Linked DNA regions of Homo sapiens: region 1 is linked to region 2. The links come from fine-mapping of genetic effects on gene expression. A gene starts in region 2. The other region holds a variant in brackets. All regions are shown on one strand. Distances are from middle to middle.

The links.
Region 1: its variant is fine-mapped to the expression of DOK7 in whole blood (TOPMed, PIP above 0.99).

What each region holds. Positions count from the first base shown.
Region 1 is chr4:3,480,843-3,491,796 of GRCh38, reverse strand. It overlaps DOK7 (docking protein 7), which reads right to left. Exons shown (of 7, transcript NM_173660.5): 5 at 6,139-6,258; 6 at 2,001-2,120. It overlaps LOC105374355 (vegetative cell wall protein gp1-like), which reads left to right and starts at 6,960. Exons shown (of 3, transcript XR_007057994.1): 1 at 6,960-7,352. RefSeq lists a silencer at 1,976-2,085 and enhancers at 5,242-6,208, 6,210-7,409, 9,112-10,078, 10,079-10,954. The variant T/C (reference allele first, on the strand shown) is at 6,289.
Region 2 is chr4:3,458,422-3,469,375 of GRCh38, reverse strand. DOK7 (docking protein 7) reads right to left here and starts at 6,070. Exons shown (of 7, transcript NM_173660.5): 1 at 5,947-6,070; 2 at 5,825-5,870. The coding sequence starts at 6,000. RefSeq lists enhancers at 1,091-1,698, 2,918-3,527, 6,445-7,292.

The DNA of each region.
Region 1 (10,954 bases), 22 kb before region 2:
ACAGAGCCAGAGCCACCGGCAGCTGAGGAGGTGCCTCTGCTCCTGGGCAGCCAGCTCACCTGCCTTAGAGCCTTTTGTCTGGGCACAGAAGGTAAAACCAACATGCAGGGCCTTGGTCTCCCCCAGCCACAAGCTGGTGGGCAGGAAAGGATTCAAAGGCTCTCAGGGCAGAACCACCTTTCCCGTCAGCACCTCAGACCAGAGTTTAGTAAATGTGGAACCATAAGTGAAGGAAGGAATGAATGAATAGGTGGGAGAAGGAAGAAATGAATGAACAGACAGAAGGAAGGAATAAGCGGAGGGACAAGGAAAGAATGAATGAGTGAGAGAGAAATTGAGTAGGGAGAGAAGAAAGAAATGAATGAGCAGGGGAAGAAGGAAAGAAGGAAGCTGGGGTGAGCAGGAAGGAATGAACGAGCAGGGGGAGCAGAGGAAGGAAGGAACAAGCAGGCGAAGAAGGAAGGAATGAATGAGCAGGGGGAGAAGGCAGGAATGAATGAGCGGGGGGGCGGAGGAAGGAATGAATGAAGGAATGAATGAGCAAGGGGAGAAGGAATGAAAGAGCAGCGGGAGAAGGAAGGAATGAGCAGGGGGGAAGGAATGAGCAGGGGGGAAGGAATGAATGAGCAGGAGGAAGAAGGAAGGAAGGAATGGGGGGAAGGGAGAAACGAATGAACGAGCAGGGGGAGAGGGAAGGAATTAATGAGCAGGAGTGGGGAGAAGGAAGGAATGAGCCGGGGGAAAAGAAAGGAAGGAATGGGGGGGAAGGAAGGAATGAATGAGCAGGAAGAAGAAGGAAGGAATGAATGAGCAGGAGGGAAATGAAGAAATGAGCAGGGGGAGAAGGAATGAATGAGCAGGGGAAGAAGGAAGGAATGAATGAGCAGAGGAGAGAAGGAAGAAATTAATGAGCAGGAGGGTAATGAAGGAATGAAATGAGTGGGGGGGAAGGAAGGAATGAATGGGGGGAAGGCAGGAATGAATGAGCGGGGGGGCAGAGGAAGGAATGAATGAGCCGGGGGAGAAGGAAAGAAGGAATGAGCAGGAGGAAGAAGGAAGGAAGGAATGAGTGGGGGGAAATGAAGGAATGCATGAGGGGGGAAGGAAGGAAGGAATGCGGGGAAGGGAGGAATGAATGAGCAGGAGGGAAATGAACGAGCAGGCGGAGAGGGAAGGAATGAACGAGCAGGGAGAGAAGAAATGAAGGAATGAGCAGAGAGAGAAGGAAAAAACGAATGAGCAGGGGGAGAAGGAAGGAACGAATGAGCGGGGGGGTGAAGGAAAGAATGAGCAGGGGGAAAAGGAAGGAATGAATGAGCAGAGGGAGAAGAAAGGAATGAATGAGCAGGAGAGAAATGAAGGAATGAATGAGCGGGGCGGTGGGGGGGGTGAAAGAAGGACTGAATGAGCAGGGGGTGGGGGGAAGGAAGGAATGAATGAGTGTGGGGAAAAGGAAGGAATGAATGGAGGTAAGGCAAGAATGAGCCGGGGGGGCGGAGGAAGAAATGAATGAGCAAGGTGGGGAAGGAAGGAATGAATGAGCAGGGAGAAAAGGAAGGAATGAATGAGGGGGTGAAGACAGGAATGAATGAGGGGGGAAGGAATGAGTGGGGGGGGCGGAGGAAGAAATGAATGAGCAGGGTGGGGAAGGAAGGAATGAATGAGCAGGGAGAAAAGGAATGAATGGGGGTGAAGAAAGGAATGAATGAGGGGGTGAAGAAAGGAATGGGGGGAGGAAGGAATTAATGAGTAGGAGGAAGAAGGAAGGAATGAATGAGCAGGAGGAGAAGGAAGGAATGAGCAGGGTGGTGGGGAAGGAAGGATGAATGAGTAGCGGGCGGGGCGGGGAGTTGGGGGAAGAATGAATGAGCAGGAGACAGAAGGAATGAATGAATGAGCAGAGGGAGCCTGCAGCCCCCACACATGCATGGATGCCTCCTGAGCTCTCCTGCTGGAGGCTTAGCCGAGGTCCCACAGCCCAGGTCAGCCCCCGGCCCTACCTCCACTGCCCGGCCTGCCCGCATGTGAGAGGAGGCTCAGCCGCTTCTCCAGCTGTAGGGTTTCCAGGGCTTCCTGGGCCACACGCTCCTCCACAGTCGAGGGTCCCGGGGGACTTGGGTCTGTGGCAGAGAGAAGACTCGGTGGAGGAGGTGGCCACCACCGCCCACCCTCGCCCGCAGGCACCAGGCCCAGCCTGACTCAGTGGTTATCCCCCTCTGTGGAGTGGCAGTCCCCTGGGAGTCCCCGCTCCTCCCGATGCCTCATCCCAGAGGCTGGCCCTCAAACGCAGACACCCACACCACCCCTATCCAGGCCACCATGCGCCCAGCTGGGTCCCTGTGCCCGTGGATGGCCCTGCCACCTGCCCACTCACCAGGACCCCACGCCGGCCAGACCCCTCCTTCCTCATCTTCCTCACCACCGAGTTTTTCAATTTTCTGTTCCAAAAAATGACCAGCCCCTCCCCCATCCCCAGGGCCGGCCTCGCTGCAAGAGGGGCTGCCTGCCCCTCATTCACGGTGCCCATTTCTCACAGGCTCCCCTCCACCTGGGGAAATGCCCGCCCACCTTGCAGTGTCCCCACCGTTCCCTGGGGTCTCGGATGGAGACTCATACTGTGCCCAAGGCTCAGAGCATGGTGGTCTGCGGACCCTCGGCCCCACCTAGCCCCTCCCCTCAGGGCTGCATCCAGGGAGCACCAGCCTCGCCTTCTCTATTCATCGTCCATGTGTCCTCTGCGACTGAGTGGCAGGAAACCTCCCCTTCCTGCCCAGGCAGGGTGGGACCTCTCACTGGCCCCTCAGCACCGCTGCTGCGAGCCTCAGCATCACTGCCCTGGTCCCCAAGCCCCCGCCCATGCTGGGATGTCCCAGGCACTAAGTGATGTGAACACTGGGCCAAGTGGCTACCTTGCTCCAAACAGCAGGGCTCAAGACCCTGCCCCTTCCACATCCACAGCACCCACGGCCACAGCCATCCCAAAGAGTTTCCCTGGCAGGGAAGCCACAGCCACACCCGCAAGAGCAAACCGACCCCGTCCTGCTCCAAGTGGCCTCCTCTGGGCCTCCAGAACACACCTCCTGACACCCACCTTGGGGGCACCTGCAGGACTGAGCCGAAACAGGTCCAAGGACCTGCTCTCCCCAAAGTCCAGGAGCAGTGGCAGCATGAAAAGTTTACACCAAATTCTGCAGCGCACAGAGGACCAGAAGGTACAGTCCCCAGCCTGGGACACCTAGATCAGAGCCTCAGCGGACAGAACCCAGCCTGGCGGAGGCTGGAGCCAGACGTCCCGACCCCATGGTCAGCGCTCCGGAGAAACAAACAGAGAAAGCAATGGTGTCCCTGTCCAGGTTCACATCTAGGCTGAAGAGGCCCTGTCCCTGATAGGACACTGTCCTCTGCTGATGCCTTCAGCCCACACAGGTGCCCAGCTGGGGCCCTTGCTCACTACAGGAGACCCCATCAGGACCTCAGAACAGGGCCCTCCCCACGGGCAGGTGAGAGCTCACAGCACCGGGCCCAGGAACACAAGAAGGGCCTGGAGGAGCCTCCCCCACCTCTGGGTATGGCCACCCCAAGGCACTGCCCCGGTCAGCCTGGGGCCCTGCCAGCCCAAGACCCTGTGGCCCTGTCTGTAGCATTGCCGGGGACAGGGATGGGGGTGGCACAAGCCTCTCTCCTGTCCCCTCCCTGCCTGTGCCTGGGAGGGTGGAAGGCGATGGCAGCCAAGGCTGTGCCAGCTCAGGCATCAGTCCCTCCCGACACGGCCTGCTGGTGGCCATGGAGCCCACAGGCCACACGGCTTAGCAGCTCCTGGCACTTTCACAGACACATTCAGCCACGTGGGCAGGACAGCAGGCACCAGTCCTGGCTCCTTGGTGCACTGAGGGTCCAGGCTGAAGACAAGCACAGTGACAGGACAGCACAACTGCCCCTCAGCCCTGGGACATTCCGACCAGGGCCACCCTCAAAGCCAATGCCCCACAGGTGGGACGGAGAGTGGCCCCTCGGTGACACCAGGGTCAGGATGCAGGACACAACCTCCCACCATTTCCCGTCCAGTAACTGGTGGGCCAGCAAGACACGGATCGACTCCCAGCTCCACCACACGCCCCCTGAGCCTCTCACCCTCGTCTGCAAAATGGGGTGCAGCAACGGTGCACCCCCGTGGAGGCCAGGCCAAGAAGGTAACATGCACGCCATACTCGGAGCATGGTGGACCCCAGACCTCTGAGCCCTTCCCTCCTGCTCCTGGTGGGTCTGGCTGCCTCTGGGACTCGGTGTCCACATGCGGAAGACCAAGGGGCTGGACTTCCTGCATCTCTTGGCCCCTCCAGTGGGTCACAGCGGGCTCAGCACAGGAGGACGGCAGAAAGCCCAGAGCTTGAGGATGCCGCCCGCAGGGCTCTATTGTGGGAGTCCTGTGATCACGGGGCTCCAGTGTGCTGCCAGCACAGGCAGACGAACCCATCAGCCCAGACCCTCCAGTAAGTCCAGCCTGCGGGGGCTGGGCCCACGGCTTCTCTGGTGGGGTGCTGCCCAGCATAGTGTCCCAGCTCAACCCACCTCCGGGTGGCCTGAGGCCCCCACACACCTGCAGAGGCACAGCTTGGGGGCACAGCTGCAGGCCGAGGCCCTGACAACAGAGCTTTCTGAGAGCTCCCAGCTGACTCTGACAAAGATGTCCTGTGGAGTGGGGTCTGGGACTTCTGGTCAGCCCAACCCCCTCCAGCTGTCAGCAATGGCCCCGCCTGGGGCTGGCCCACGTGCTGCCTGCGGTGGAGCCTGTCCCATCTAGTGGCTGTCCCAGGCAAACCCTCCCTGGCATCCTCTGCCCAGTACTGCTTCCCTGCTTCCCTCTGCTCCCCGGGAACTGCCTGAGGGGAGCAGGAGAGAGCAGGGAGCCCTGCTCAGCCTCCTGCTGCCCCTGCCCGGCCCTGTCCCCGCCCTGCACTCTGCACACCCTCGCCTTGCACAGCCAAACACACCGACCACATCATCCACGCTGACCACACCATCCACACCTGCCTGCAGCCGCTAGGCAGGAAGACACCTGCAGGGGTGCATCCACTAGGCAGGAAGACACCTGCAGGGGTGCATCCACTAGGCAGGAAGACACCTACAGGGGTGCAGCTGCACCATCCAGCATGGCAGGGCAGCGGGGAGGGCGCTGGCCATAGGTGCCACCTCCCCACTCCCAGGGCTGCCCCCAACGGGACTTTGCTGGTGTGGGCAGGGGGCATTGGGGGCTGTGGCCAGGAGAAGGGAGGCCCAGGTCCCACCCCACATGCTGCTCGCCTCTGCCCTCCCAGTCACCCTTCCCCGCCACACCACGGCGGGGGTGCCAGTGCCAGGAGGCGCCACATGTGAGCTTGCTGCTCACCCGCCACATGGCCTAGGCCTTGGCCTCACTTGGACGTTGGGTCAAGCGCTGCCCTCGTGGAGCAAGAGGAGCATTTGAGAGAGCCCATGGAGGCACCTGGCCCAGCACCCGCCCCGACCTGGGGAGCCCCACCGTGCCCAGGCACCAGAGCCCCTCTGGGGTCCAGCAACATCCCTGGCCAAGGACTCCTGCAGAGAGTGCCGCAGCCACAGCCAAGGAAGTGTGGGTGAGACAAGACGAGACCCCCTCAGCCCAACGTGTCCTGAGACCCCACAGCCAGGGGACCTCCCGAGGTGGCCTTGGGCCTAAACACCGGGCTCAGGCAGAGCCAGTCCCGACCCCAGCTGCAGAGTCAGACCAGCTGCCCCCGGGCCACCGAGCTCGGGCAAGGCCTTCCCTGCTCCTGGGCGTGGAAGATGGTGGTGGTGGGTCAGAGGGTCTCTTACTGCACAGTGGCAGCTGTGGCTGACTGTCCCAGCCAGAAAGCTCTAGGGCCAAGCGTTCCAACAGCTCGGACCCCCGAGGGAGAGCACCTGCAGGTACGAGCCCAGCCCCCGCTGCTCTGAATCCCTCAGCAGGGCTTGCAGAAGCCCAGGCTGCAATCCTGGCCTGGAAAGGTTCTGGTTCCTTAGCTGGGGGTGGGGAGGCTGGCCATCTAACTGGGGCTGACAAATCACTGTGGCCCCCCGCCCCGGGACGTCGCACAGCCTGCCGAGCGCACCCTCCCCGGCCGGCCAGGCTCCCACACGCACCTGGTAGAACCGGCCGCAGCCCAAAGGGGCCCTTGGTGGGGGAGATGCCTCGGACGATGCAGTCGAACAGGAAGCTGATCTGCTCCCCCTCGGCCGAGGACAGGAAGAAGACGCCAGCCCCTGCAGAGGAAGGACAGAGACAGGTCAGTC[T/C]GGCCCGAGGGCGGGCTGGGGACCCTGAAGAGGAGGAACACAGGAAACCGCAGCAAACTCCACCAAGAGCCGACAATGACACCCTGCCTGGCCCCACGAAGTCAGATGCCCAGAGCCGACACCCCGCCTGGCCCCGTGAATCCGGGTGCCCAGAGCCGACACCCCACCTGGCTCTGTGAAGCTGGGTCCCCAGAGCCTCTGGACTCCCCAGGGACCCCGCCGCACCCTTCAAACTTGGGCGCTGGGGTGAGTGCTGCCCCGCCCATCCTAGGTCCTGCAGCCGACAGGGCATGGGGAGGAGGGAGGGGGTGCCCTGCCCTGGACAGATGGGTGCCCCCGCCCACATACCTGCCTTCCGGGCTTGCTTGGGGGGATGGGGGGATGTGGCTGCTCTGCCACCCAGCAGGCACTTGATCAGTCCCTCCTCTGCCCCAAGGTCCCAGCGACCCTGCCCCCACAGCCGTCTTGAGGGCAAATGAAGCAGCCAGGAGACCCCAGAGACATCAAGTAGGGTCCCCTCAGGGCTCCAAGGCCACAGGAGAAGGGAGCTGTGCCACCTGGAGCTGGGGTCACATCCCAGGAAGGCTGCCATGTGACCACACTTCCTTCCCCCGGGCTGTTGGGAGGGCTGCATTCAGATGTTTGTAAAAGGTGTGGCACGGCACCTGCCCACACATGCTGCAGCCGTCACTGCTGGCCAGCACCGCGTCCTCCCCACCTCCTCGGTCATCTTTCAGGGGAAGCTGGAGCTGCCAGTGTGTGGGTGCTGCCCTGAGGCCGTGTGCAGCATCCTGGGGCCAGCATCCACCCCTGCACCCCCACAGCAGCAGGAGGGCCCCCAGGGACCAGCCCAGCGTCACTGGCAGAGCGATGCAGCCGCCACCCGTGGAGAAGCCCCAGCTGCGAGTCACGGGGGCGCTGCCCTCCCGGCCAGGGGTGAATGAAGCCCTGGCGGCCGCGTGAATGGGCCACTGGGCTGGCTGCACCCGGCTGGACACTCCGGCTGGCGTCACCTCACAGGAATCCCGCCCGCTCCGGGGCCTCTGCCCATTGCCCAAAGAAAGGTACGCAGGAGGGAAGGCGCCGGGGTGGGCAGGAGTTGGGGGGAAGGGAAATCTCGGCATTAGAACCCCCGCTGCCTGCTGCCCAGTCATGCTCTGCCTTCACGGAACACAGGCTGTAGATTCCAGGGACACGGAACTCAGGCCAGCCCCGACACGTGGCGACGCTGCCGGCCCCTTGGCAGCCACCCCGGGCACACGAGGGCGAGCGGCACCTTGTGCTGTGGATGCTTCCTTCCACGTAGTGTCCCCAAACCGGGTCATGGGACAGCGCCATTCCTACTTTAGCAAAAAGGACACTGAGGCCCAGAGAAGGCACGCCACCTGTCCACCATCACACAGCCACGAGGTGGACTCAAGTCCAAGTCCCCTGGCCCCCTGTGCACCTTCTGGCCCGATAGAGCTTCCAGTCCTACTGTGGGTGAGGGGTGCTCCTGATCAGAATTGGAGGTGGGCATGGAGGGGAGGCCAATGCCCGCTGCGATGCCATCCAGGAGGATGCCCCGAGAGGCTCATGAGGGCCGTGATGGGGTGGGGCCCCCAAGCTGGGTAGGGTGGGCAGAAGAGAGCCTGCACCAGGCCCTGGGGGCAGGCAAGGAGAAGGCCGTCATGCTGTCTGCTGGCTGGCTCACTCAGTGCCAGGCAGTCGCTCCCTGTCCCCGTGGTCCACCCCTCCCTGTGAAGGGCTCAGCCGGCACAGCCCCAGCTCTCACGAAAGGCCAGGCTCTCTAATCCTGAGCTTACAGACAGCTGGCAGTGGCCACGGGACAATGAGTCCCCCGACTATAAAAAACCACATTACGGAAGGAGTGGAGCCGGCCCCGCATTCCATGCGGCGTCTGCGGAGCGTCACTCACCCCGAAGACACGGTCAACCGGGCAAGGCCTGGAGCACAGCCCACCGCCAGCCTCGGGCTCCCACGTGCCCACGCGACACCCTCGCCAGCCACCCCCATCATCCATGCCAGCAGAGCTGACATCAGTGGCCCTGGAGGAAGATGCCCATCTCCAATGCTGGTCTGCCAAGGTCTTGGGCCATGGCCTCCCAGGACACCGCACGACTAGGCTCTCGCTGGGCCTCCCTGGGTTCATGCTCCACCCCCGCTCCCACCCAGCCCCCCCCGGTCTTGGGAATGCTCAAAGCTCCCTCTGCACACCAGGTCTGCCTGCCATCTCCACTCAGGAGGCTGCCGTCCCCACCCTCCACACCCCTACATCTCCACTCAGGAGGCTGCCGTCCCCACCCTCCACACCCCTACATCTCCACTCAGGAGGCTGCCGTCCCCACCCTCCACACCCCTACATCTCCACTCAGGAGGCTGCCGTCCCCACCCTCCACACCCCTACATCTCCACTCAGGAGGCTGCCACCCCCACCCTCCACACCCCTGGCCACCTAGAACACCCCAGACCTTTCCAGACTCAGGCCACATAACGACACCTTTCATGATGCTTTTCTTGGCCTCTGGCCCCCTTCAGTCCCCTGACCCCGACAGCCCCTCTGTGGTGCTCTCACGGACGCCTCCTCTGGGGTTCAGCCCCACCTGCTGCCGTCCCGGCTGCCAGGCTGAGCACCTTGCCGGCAGGGAGCACAAGCCGTCTGTGGTCTCAGTGTCCACCCAAGCGCCCATAACCAGGAGACCCCCAGTGCTCGGCCTTGGGTGGAAAGACATAGGTGAGAGGCTGCTGACCGCCCCCCTGCCCCTTCCCCAAGACAGGGTGCGCATGTTTCCTGTTTGCCTGTGTGTTTGGGGAAAGGGGGGAGAACAGGGCCTGCCCCATTTTGCTATATCACACAGGTGTGACTGCAGCAAAGCCGGCCACTCTGTTTCCCCTATCCCTGCCCTCAGAGGCCGCTCCTTCTCCAGAGGCTGGTCCACTCCCTCCCTGGAATCGAAGCCAGCCAGTGATGGCTCTGGCATAAAGTGGCATGAGGGATGCTCTCCCAGCCCTGCCCCAAGACCGTCAGAGGCCTGGCAGCTTCTGCTCTCTTGGAACCTATTGAGAAGCCCAAGGTGTCCTATCGGAGGGTGAGGTTCCTGGAGGGAAACTGAGGCAACCCAGCCAACAGCCGGCACAGTGCTTTCCTGGGCCTTTGGGCCCCACCATAGCCAAATGCCACTGCCCGAGGGACCCCAGGCAGCACCTCATGGGGCAGAGATGAGCTGTCCTCACTGAGCCCCGTCCAGATCCCTGGCCCACAGAATTGCCAGCCAGGGAACAGCCGCCAGCCGCTAGGTGTGGCAGGGTAAATAGGAGTTAGCTCAGCTGTTAGAGGGTAAGCGGTGGAGGGGGGTGAAAAGGGCACGTCAGACATCTTTGAGCACAAACGGGTGTCCCAAAGGGCTGTATAGGAGCCCTGTTGTGGGGGATAGGAGGCGTGAGGGTAAGAGGAAAGAGCATGGAAGACGCAGAGAAGCAGGACAGAGTCAGCAGAACACAAGCAGAAGGCCAGGAGCTGCGGGGCTCAGGGCGGCGCCAACTCTGGACAGAGGCTGGGGTTGCTGAGCGGCAGGCAAACCTCACCCACGTTACAGACGCACCTGCTTCCTGAGAAACACGTCTCCAGTGAAAAAGCTGTTGCACTAACTCCAGGACTCACCGGCTTGAGAAAGAAAATGCTCCTCCACGCAGACATTTAATGAGCCAATTAGATCTAAGATGGTTTCCATCTGAATATTCTTGAGTGCCCTCGTGGCTGCCCCTTGATGTCAGAATCTTAAGTGCTCATAATCCCAGCTCCTCAGAGAACAAACATCGGGGTGACCAGGGTGTCCTGGATGGCTCATGCCAGGTAGGCATGGGCAGGACTGAGAAGTCTTGATAACATGACCCTCAGCCCTCTCCATCCCCCAAGGTGGCAGCTTCTTGTACACTTGGGAGTGGCCCCACCTAGTGGGTCTCGGGTGGAGGAAGGCCTGGAGCCTGGCAGTGGGTGTTGGCTCCCACCCCTCCTCTGCCCTCCTGAAGCAGCCCCAGTCCAGGGGCACCACTCTAGAAGGCCCCCCCTTCCCGGGCCGGCCCTCCTCCCCTTGTCCATCACCACCTTGTTAACATTCCTGCAATCCACAGGGTTCCCATCCCCCAACCAGGCAGCTGCTGCCTGGGGCAGCCTCGCCCTCCATCTTCTGGACCTCAATCAGAACCTTCTCTGGCCCCTGCCAGCCTCTTCCTCCAAGCTCATCTGCACCCCGGGGTCAACATTAGCATATAAAACACTCCCCATGCTCAAGCACCTTCAATGGCTCCCTGCTGCTCCGAGACAATGGTGCAAACAAACACTGGTCCAATTAGCCAGCTCTCTACAACCCAGCCCTGTCTCCTCCTCCTCCTCCACCCTCACGCCTCCTATCCCCCCCAACAGGGCTCCTACACAGCCCTTCGGGACACCCATTCGTGCTCAAAGATGTCTGAAGTGCCCTTTTCACCCCCCTCCACCCCTTACCCTCTGACAGCTGAGCTAACTCCTATTCACCCTGCAGAAGTCCCCTGAGGCTCGCCCCTCCAGAGAGCTTCCCCGCAGTGCCCCCAGCCTGGGGTCTGTGCCCCTCCTGGCTCCCCTCGCACCCTCTGAGGACTGAAAATGCCTCACTCAGTCTCACGCAGC
Region 2 (10,954 bases):
TGCAGAACTTGGAGGGTTCCCGGGGCTCTGGCAGGCAGCACTGGGCTGGGTGGAGGGCACCGGGTCGTGATGCTGAAAGGAGACAAACGAGGAAGAGGCACCAGGAGAGGCCAAGGCACAGAGACCATGTGGAACAAGCAGGCACACACGCACACTCACACAGAGGCACACACACTCATACATGCACACTCACACAGACGCACACACACACATGCACACTCATACACAGACACATACACGCACACACACAATGTGTGCACACATACATGCACGCACACACAGGCACACACATGTACACTCAGGCACACACACTAATGCACACACAGACATGCACACTCATACACATACACAGGCACACACACTCATACACGCACACTCACACATGCATACACAGGCACACGTACACTCATACAGGCACCACACTCACACGTGCACAAAAGCACGCACACTCATACACACATACACACACAGACATGCACACATACACAGGCACACTCGTACACAGGCATGCACACTCATACGCGCACACACATACACGCACACACACACTCCATGCATACACACACAGGCACACACAGACATACATGATCACAGGCACACATACATGCACACACACACGCACACAGACACATACACAGGCAGACATACAGGCACGCACACATACACACACATACACAGACATACATGCACACACAGGCATGCACACAGGCACACACACTCATACATGCACACACACAGGCATATACACACGCACACACAAAGGCACGCACACACCAATACACGCACACTCAGACAAGCACACACATTCATACATGCTCACACAGGCACACACACATACACTCACAGTCACACACACTCATACACGCACACACGCACATGCACACTCATACATGTACACAGAGGCACACATACATGCACACACAGGCACACACTCGTACATGTACATTCACACAGGCACACACACTGCTGCATGCCCATGCAGACACCGGCACACACTTGCACACACAGACACACGCACACAGACAAGCATTTGAGCTCACACACACTCGCACACACAGGTATTCACACGCATGTGCACACGTGCACACACACTCCCACAGGTATTCACATGCACGCGGACACACACTTGCACACATACACCCCCACACAGGTATTCACATGCACACACACACACTTGTGCACACACACCCCCACACACAGGTATTCACATGCACACACACACTTGCATACACACCTGCACACACAGGTATTCACATGCACACACACGTGGACACAGTCATGCACTTGCACTCATGCTTGTGCACACACAGAAGCGTGCACTCATGCACTCAGTGCTGGGGTCTGAATCTGAAATTCCAGTGTTGAAATCTTCACCCCCAAGGCGATGGGTTAGTGGTGGGGCCTTTGGGATGCGATGAGGTCATCAGGGTGGAGCCTCAAGAATGGGACCAGTACCTGATGAGGGGGCCCCAGGGCGCTTCCTCCCCCTACACCATATAAGGACAGAGAAAGCGCCACCTATGCAGCAGGACATGGTCCTCACGAGACACCCAGGACGCGGATCCTCACCAGACACCCAGGCTGCCTTGATCTTGGACCTCCAGCCCCCAGAACCGTGAGCAGTGACTGGCTGTCGTCTGAGCCGCCCAGGCTGTGGCATTCGCTAAGAGCCGCCTGAGCTAAGACAGCCACACAAGCCCACACTCACACATTCACTCTTACACACTCACCCAAATGCTCACACTTGCTCACACGTGCACACGCTCCCACGGTGTGTACAGGTGCACATGTACATCCTCACACACACACACGCACGTGCACACACGCTCCCCCTGCATTCACCTCCACAGCCACAGGGAAACGAGGAATCCAGGATGAGCCCTGGGACTTGGGTTGGGGAGGGATGTCTGGGGTGGGGGGGGGGGGTCTTCCCTGGACACGTGAGGCTGAGAAGCCCACCAGACACCGGGCGGCGATGCACACAGGCAGTTGGACGCAGGCTTCTGGAGATGTAAAAATAACTGTGGAGTCATGAGCACACGGAAGGCCTTACAGCCAGGGCGGAGAGCCGGGGAGGGCGGGAGGGAAGAAGGAGGAGGGGGAGAAGCCGCAGGGAAGATGGAGCAAGCAGGCATGGTGGCCCAGGGAAGGCAGGGGCATGTGTGGGCCGGGGACGCAGTGGGGGGGGTCCCCGCCCACACTGAACACGATGGGAGTCCGCAGAAGTGGCTGCGGGACAGCCTTTGGAGGTCACAGTGACCTTGAGGCTGTGCCCTTAGCAACGCAGGTGGTAGCCGCCTGAGGGGACCCTGCTGGGGTGCAGCAGCCTGGAGCCGCCCCCAGAAGCTGGGCAGGAGCAAGGGGGGCGGCCATCGACCAGGCCGGCCTGCTGATGCCTCCTCGGGCCAGGCCACAGCCAGGACACACGAGACCAAGATCCAGTGCCTAGCCCCGGACCCATTCACAATCTGGTTCGGGAAGGAAACGCGTGAGGGTGCCCCTGCCCGGCACAGGTGTTGGAGGTGTGGTGCAGGTGGGCCCCCCAGACCACAGACATCACCAAGGGCAGCCCAGGACGAGGCTCCAGATGCCAGGGCCAGGCCCTCGCGCCCACCTCTCCATTGCCCTCAAGAGCCCTGTGAGTAGACGAGGACGCAGGCGGGGAATGAGCCGTCCCAGGTCACTGCTCCCACATGTGGAGCTGAGAGCTGAACCCCAGCTCTCTGATTCCCTGTCCTGACGCGGGGGCTGAGGGAAGGTCGCCCTGTTCTTGATGTTTCTATGGGGAGAGGATAACTGGCCACCACCCACGCCCGGTCTTCAGCCCGGAGCTGGGATGTCAGCCCCAGTCCGTTGGGGCAGGAGCCAGACGCACAGGAAATCCACCACCAGGAGGCTCTGCTCAGGAAGGGCCGACCCAGTGTCCACCCCCAGCCCCTCGTTAGCGGAGGCGCTGTGGAGGGCAGGGCCCCAGGACAGCACTAGCCGTGGGGCAGCTCCGGGGCTCACGGGGCACCTGCCAGGGGGCTCCCGGCTCCTGCGCCGTCTCCGTGGGGTCCCTCCTGCAGGCCGGGCTCAGTCCCACCGAGAGCAAGGATAGGGGAGACTAAGCAAGGGCCCAGCCATCAGCCCGGGGGCAGGCGCGGAACTTCCAGCCAGCTGTGGGGGGCAAGGTTTGGGCTGGCTGGGGGGAACTGGGCTCTGCCCAGCAGTCCATGTCTTGGGCCAGATCCCTCGGGTTTCTGAGTTTCAGCTTCCCCCCACCATGGTGACTCCAAGACCCTGCCAGCTCCAGGACTCGGGCCCTCCCGGTGGCTTTTCTGAGCTGGATGAAGCCCCCAGGGGCAGCCCCTGTGGGAAGCAGGCCCCCTCAAGTGTCTGGCCTGGGGCCACACTCTCCACAGGATGTCAAGAACACTTTCCTCACCACCCCCAGCCCCCGCACCTGGGAGGAAGAAGAGAGGGGCTGGGCCAGGCGCCGCTGGCATGCAGGGCCACCAGCAGTGAGTCCTGGGCCACAACTGGACACAGACCACCCTCCTCCCCCGGGGCCCTGCCCAGAGAGGGGACGCAGACACGCATTCCGCAGTGAGGACGCGGTGGAGACATTGAGGAACGTGGTCCCACTGCAGGGCACCCTGCAGTCCCACACCGAGGCAGACGGCCCGACGTCCACTGGCCATGCCAGGCGCTGTGGCTGAGCAGCCCTTTGATAAAAGGGTTTCCCTTTCATTCGCTAAACCTTGTCATAACAGAAAGACGTGCTCACGATTGAGAAAAACGCAAGGAGGAGAAAGGTGCCAGTGGAAAAGGTGCACATCGGGGCCCTTCCCAGAAGGAAATCACCACTGGTAACAAAAAGAACCCTGCCTGTCTTACAAGGAAGCAGACGGGACCCTTCCTCTCTCCCTCACACCAGGAGCGCAGGGTCTGTGCTGTCTGCTCCTCCAGGGCTGGGGCCTGCTCCCTCCACGCCGGGCCCATCCACAAGGGAGGTGGTCTCCAGCGCTGAGCGGGAAGGCAGCTGGGTGAAGGCAAAGGGGGCAGCATCTAGGGAGGCTTATGAGGGGCCAGGGGAAGAGGCATCAGGGCCTCTGAGCGGAGAGGAGGTGCCAGGCTGGCCTGGTCAGGGTGGGGAGGTGGGCGTGAGAACTCCGCTCTGTCCCATCCCCTCATCTGACCGACCTCTGGGCAACCCCACAGGGTGTCAGTTTCAACCCTGGGCTGCTGGAGTGACCAACACAGAAAGCAGGTGTCCAAAGCAATGGGTCCCAGGCCAGTGAGTCAGTGGGTGCTAGGGACACCTGGCCTCAAGGCTTGGAATGAACATCCACCCAGAGGGGGCATGGCACCTTCTACTACCCCACATCACCTCCCACGCCAGCCCCAGAAGGCTGCAGATCTCAACTGCGCAGGATACGGGATAACCCAGCAGACGCTCGGGAGCCACCATGTTCACCTACAGACTCACAGATTGTCCCACCTGGGGGACCCATTGCAAACTCCTGTCACTCCACTCAGGCACTCACCGGCCGGGGGAGCACACCCTCTTGAGGCTGGCAGGCCCTGCCTCCTGGGACTGTCTGATGCAGAAAGAAAATCCCTCCAACAGGGACAAAGACTTCTCCCCCGACACTCCTCTTTGGGGGCTGCTGTCCCGGGTGCCTTCCTGGGATGCGGCCTCTCTGGAGGGTCTGCACCGGCTCCAGCCCAGCACCATCCACCAAGCATCACCTGCCCCACCACGGCCCCGACCCAGCCACAGCTGACTAAAGCCTGTCATCCGCCCCAGCCTGGCAGGGCCTCTCACTCTGCCCAGACCCCATCCCTTCCTATACCAGGTCCCCTGCAGCCCCGGAGGACAAAGACGCCCTCCCAGGCTCTGTCGGTGCCCCCACAGCTCCAGGCAGGAGGTCTGGGCACGGAGGGCTGAGTGGAGAAGTGACCAGCGTGCAGTCCAGGCCCTGCAAGGGGAGGCGGAGGCAGGCAGGAAGTGCTTTCCTCCAGGACCACCTGAGGCCCTGCAGAGGGGACGCAGGAGGGATCCCTGCCCCACACCCTCCCTGGGAGTCACAGACACCCGTCCTGGAGGGTGCTCTGGCAGCCCCCTGGCGTACAGCCCCCCATGCACACAGGCCGAGCATCCCACCCAGACCCGGGCCTGGCCGGCTCTGCCGCACCTGTCCTCTGGAGCAGCTGCAGGCCCGGCTCAGCCCTCCCTACAGGCCCAGCGCTGCAGGCGGCCTGGGCTGCCAGACCTGGGGGCTCCATGCTGACCCTCCCCAAGCTGGGGTGCTGGCTCAGGGCGGGGACTGGGGGGGGACCCCTGCCTCCTCCCAGAGGACTGTTCCCCCAGCAATGTGGCAGTCACTCTGCCCTGCCCTACCGCAGCCCAGCCTCTCGTCTGCCTGGGAGGGGTCCAGGGTCAGCGCTAACCCACGCAGCACCCCTGGAGGCTGGGTTCGGGGGCCCTGCTCTGAGCGTTTCCACAAGCACAGCTCAACCCTCAGGTATGTGGGGCTTTGCTTCTGGGGGGCCCCTTGCTGCTCTGCTGGGGGGCTCAGGGCCTGCGTCCCCTCCGCCTACAGGGCCACCAGGCAGCCCCTCGGGCCTCAGTCTGCCCTGCTGGAAAGAGGGTTCTTCCGTCCAGGGCCCCCACCTGCGCTCCCAGGGGCGCCGGGGGGTCCGGGTCCGCACGGGGCTCTCGGGTTTCCCGGCGGGGTGACAGCGGCGGCGATTTTGGGCAAGCTGGCATTACTGCCCCGGGCCTCGGTAACCCGTGTCGCTACCCCCGCGCCCCCCGTCCCCCGCCCGCCCCGCTCACCTGCCACGGGCGACGGCTTCCGCAGCACCAGCCACCTACTCTTCCACTGCGGGGACAGGGGGGAGCGTGAGCCGCCGCCCGCGCCCGCGCCCCCCCCCCCCGCGCCCCCGACGCGCCCCGACCTTCTTGCCGTCCCGCAGCTTGACCTGGCCCTCCACCAGCGCCGCCTCGGTCATCTTCTGTCATGGTTCCGCGCCGCCGCGCTCGCCCCGGCGCCCCAGCCCAGGGTCACTTTCAAAATAGCTCGCAGGGCCCTGGGCTGGGCCAGGAGGGCGGGCCCGCGGGCAGGGCGGCGACACCGGCGACTCCAGGGCCGGCGCGGGCGGGGCTCCTTCTCCTGCGGGCGGCTCCCCCACCCCCACGGGCCCCTCTGGCCCCACCGTCCCGCGGCGGCCACTGGAGCCGCCCGCCCTCTGGAGCAAGCGCACCATCTGGGCTCAGACGCTCAGACCAGCGCCTGGCGGGGCGGGGGTCGGGCGGGGACTTCTTTTTCAAAAAGCAGAGACAACCACCTAGCAGACATCGGCCCCGCTCTGGGCACTGCTCCCAACTTTAAAGTTGGTCTTCAAACAATCCGGCTTCCCAGACTGGCATCTGCCCCTACCCCAGGGGTCACTAGACACCCGGACAACAGACTGGCCACAGGCAGCCCAGGCCTAGGATGCTCTCACATCCCCAGGCTTCCCCCACACTGAGGTGACCCCTCCCCAGGCAGGCAGTAGGGGTCGGGGAGCCCCTGGCAGCCTCTGTCTCTTCCTCCATTTCTGTTCCCATTAAAAGCCTGCAGGGACCCCAGTGCAGGTGGGCGGGTCCAGGACCCACAGTGCCGCCTCAGGGCCCCAGGTCTCCACCTCTTCTGCCCCCATCCCAGGCAAGAGCAGGCCCTGGTTAGGCCAGCCGGCTCCGATGGGCAGAGGAGCTGCCTGCTTTGTAAAGGACCTGCCAGCAGCCCTCCCAGCTGGGTGGACTTTGCGCTTCTGGACTCCCCCTCCTTGACCCTGTGGCTCCAGTCCAGCTGTCCCCAAGCTCTGGCCTGGGCATTAGATGTCACATCCAGGTTCTTCTGCAGAGAGGCCATGTGCTTTGGGGGACCTGGCAGGTCCGTGCCTTGGGTGTCAGCCCCATCCGAGAGACGGCCTCCACCACCCTGGGGTTGGGGACACCCAGCAGATACGGGAACAGCAGTGGGGAGGGGCGATGGCACCCTAGAAGATAAGCACCTGGACAAACAGCAAAGCTCCGTCCACATGCCCTACCCTAGACCCCATCCTCACGGGGCTGACGGTTCTCGGGGGAGAAGAAGGAAGGGGTAGACAGTGTCCCGTTAGGGAGGAGACGTCTTCATTTCATCCCATCCAGACCCTAGGCTGGGCTCTGTCTGCCTCGCACTGAGGAGCAAATGGAATCAGGGCAGCGTGAGGCCTCACAGCCAGGACTGAGCCACATCGGCTGACCTCAGAGCAGGGCTCAGAGGCATCGGGAGCCCTGGGCGCCCCTCCCCACTGCCCCTGTGATCCAAGAGACAGGTCTCCGGTGGGCCACAAGGGTTGGCTTTGGTGCTTCGGTGATGTCTTGTCAGGGCCTCATGCAAGGCGGGGGACACCAGGCCCAGGAAGCAGAATTTTGCATCCCCCACCCACCCCCGCAGTCACCTGTGCAGCCACCAGCCGCCTTCCGCAGAACAGTTGCTGGGTCACAGAGCCCCATTCATGCTCCCCACACATCCCAGGCCCCCAAGGGGCTGGCCCAGGACAGCCGGTGCGGAGGCGGGGGCCGTTGGGGCTGTAGCCACAGACACATCCGCTGCCCTGGGCGCCTGGCACTTGCTTATCCCTACAGGGAGAGGCAGGGCCCTGCTGCATTCCTGAGTGCTGGCCCGGGCCCAGGCTCCTGCCATGCCTGGCAGCTGCACCTGCTCCCACACAGCCTGGAACACACAGGATGCCGGAGGGTAGACAACTCCCTTCCCTGCTCCATGCGGCTCCAGGGCTGCTGAAAGGTGGAGGAAGCTTCCTGCAGGAGGAGGAGGTGGCCTGGCTGCCACTCCCAGACTGGCCGAGAGCGCTGTGACCCTGGGCAAGCTCCTGCCCCGCTCCGTGCCTCAGAAGTTATAGCCAGAAGTTTCCCCAGAAGTTATAGCCAGGGTTGCTGGTTGCAAATGGAGAAATAGGCTGGCCACTGAGTAGGAAGGGGTTGATTGGAAGCAAATCAGGTCTCCAAGAACCAAGGGGAAGGCTGGAGAGCTGGTAGGCAGTGAAAACAGAGCCACATCCTGAAAGAGGAGGACACCACAGCTCAGCCCCACAGCACAGCTGGGCTCCACACGAGGGGCAGGGTCACCACCTTCAAAGGAGCCCACAGTCTCAGGTCACAGCAGCACCCCTGTCTGACCACAGAGCCCTGCTGCGGCTGCCATGCTGCTGCTGGACACTGTGGCCAGGGACACTGCCATCTCTGCCAGACCCCATGGTCGTGGCACATTGCCACCCGCCAGTGGCTCTGTGGCCAAGGGACCTGTCCCTGACTAGCCACACCACCTTCAGCCACCATGTGATCTTACTGGTCTCAGCTTCCTCTTCTACCTTGATACTGTGATGAGCCCCAATGAGATGGCGTCCATGAGCATCTTTCAAAATGATCCAGGGTTTTCCAAGGTGATTCCAAGGGGATGATGGGGACCAGGGGTGGGCTGCTTTGTCTTGCATCTCCAAGTGGCCTGGTGTGTGGGAGAGAAACACGTCAGCTGAGTGTGGCAAGCACTGTACCCTGTGGTCACACCCGTTTGTGCATCCACATTTCCCAGTACCACCACCCCGCCCCCATCAGGTAAGGCTGTATGAGTGAGTTCTGGCCAGTAAGGCATGGGTGGAAGGGGTAACCAACACTTCTGGCCTGCCCATAGGATGCCTGATACAGTTCGACTGTGTCCCCACCCAAATCTCATCTTGAATTGTATTAATAATATTAGCTCCCGTAATCCTCATGTGTTGTGGGAGGGACCAAGTGGGAGGAAATTTAATCATGGGGGTGGGGTTTTCCTGTGCTGTTCTCATGAGAGTGAATAAGTCTCATGAGATCTCATGGTTTTATGAAGGGCAGTTCCCTGCACATGCTCTTTGCCTGCCGCCATGTAAGAGGTGCCTTTGCTCCTCCTTCACCTTCACCATTTCCCTTTGCCTTCAGCAAGCACCTCAGCAGTTCATGTTTTTTTTTTTCCTGGTGGAGTGACCCAAACCTTCATTCCTGAAGTGTCTGGGGGATTTGTAGTCCTGCCTGGATTGGGCTGTTGTAGTTTCCCATTGACCTTAATCACAGGGCATGGTAATATTAATAGACGCCCTAATGGATCTTTTGTAATTCTATGCATACTCTTACTTACCTCCTTTGTGGAGCTGTAGACTGATTTCATCTCGAGAGTCTGGGTCAATCACTCCAGCCAACACTGTAACTCCTTCTTAGCCTGTTGACTTAAAGGTAGGAGGAGCCCAGAGTGTCCAGGTGGCAATCTTAACTTCTAGCTTAATGGAACAGTTGTGTCTCCTGGTGGCAGCGTTCCTCCCTCTGGAACTAAGACCTCTAGGCCAGCAGAACATAATGTCGTGGGAACAGGAAGCAAACATTTTGCTAGTGGATCACTAGGGGTGATGGCGAGTGGTGCCACTTCCACTTGAGTGCCTTGATTCCTGGACCCGTGCATCCTGGCTAAGGGAGAAACAATATCATATCTTGGATGCTGATTCAGAGCATACATGGCCTTCTGGAGAACTTGGTCCCAGCCCTGCAAAGTATTGTCACCTAGTTGGTGTTGTAATTGTGACTTCAGAAGGCCATTCCACCGTTCTACCAATCCAGCTGCTTCAGGATGATGGGGAACGTGGTAAGATCAGTGAATTCCATGAGCATGAGCCCACTGCCACACTTCTTTAGCTGTAAAGTGAGTGCCTTGCTCAGAGGCAATGCTGTGTGGAACACCCTGATGGTGGATGAGGCATTCCGTGAGTCCATGGATGGCAGTCTTGGCAGAAGCACTGCGTGCAAGATAGGCAAACCCACATCAGGAGTAAGTGTCTATTCCGGTGAGGACAAACCTCTGCCCTTTCCAGGATGGAAGAGGTCCAATATAATCAACCTGCCACCGGGGAGCTGGCTGATCACCCTGAGGAATGGTGCCATATTGAGGCTCAGTGTTAGTCTCTGCTGCTGCCAAATTGGGCACTCAGCAGTGGCTGTAGACAGGCCAGCCTTGGCTAGTGGAGGGCTACGTTGCTGAATCTCCATGTGTAATCTCCATCCCTGCCACCATGGCCACTTTGTTCATGGGCCCACTGGGCGATGACAGGGGTGGCTGGGGAAAGAAGCTGAGTGGTGTCCACAGAACAGGTCATCCTACCCACTTGATTATTAAAATCCTCCTCTGCTGAGTTCACCCATTGGTGAGCACTCACAGGGGACACAAATATCTTCCGTTTTTGACCACTCGGAGAGGTCCATCCACATACCTCTTCCCCAAATGTCTTTGTCACCAATTTTCCAATCATGCTTCTTCCAAGTCCCTGACCATCCAGCCAAACCATTGTCTACAGCCCATGAATCAGTACATAATCACACACCTGGCCATTTCTCCTCCCATGCAAAGTGCACAACCAGGTGCACCGCTCCAAGTTCTGCCCACTGGGAAGACTTCCCTTCACTGCTGTCCTTCAGGCATGTCCTAAAAAGGGGCTGTAGTGCCGCAGCTGACCACTTTCGGGTGGTGCCTGCATATCGTGCAGAAGCATCTGTGAGCCAGGTCCTAGTCTTCTCTTCCTCTGTCAAATGATTGTTGCAGGCCGAAAGAGTGAGGGTCACGATCAACTCAGTATACCACCAGAGGCTATACGAGTAAACAGCAAACTGTTCTCATAAAAGCAGGTTGTTGGTGAACTGACAAACCACATATGCTGCCCAGAAGGACTGCTGAGAGCAGTCACGACCCACGCACAAGTGTTTCTTGTGATTAGGTAACTATGAAGCCTGTTAGCAATAATGTGAACCTGAGATCAATTAAGGAGCTGACCAATCATTACCTCCTGCTCCCTGATCTTTCTACCCAACATGAAGGGCTATAGAAGCTCAGGGTGGCTGCCCTTG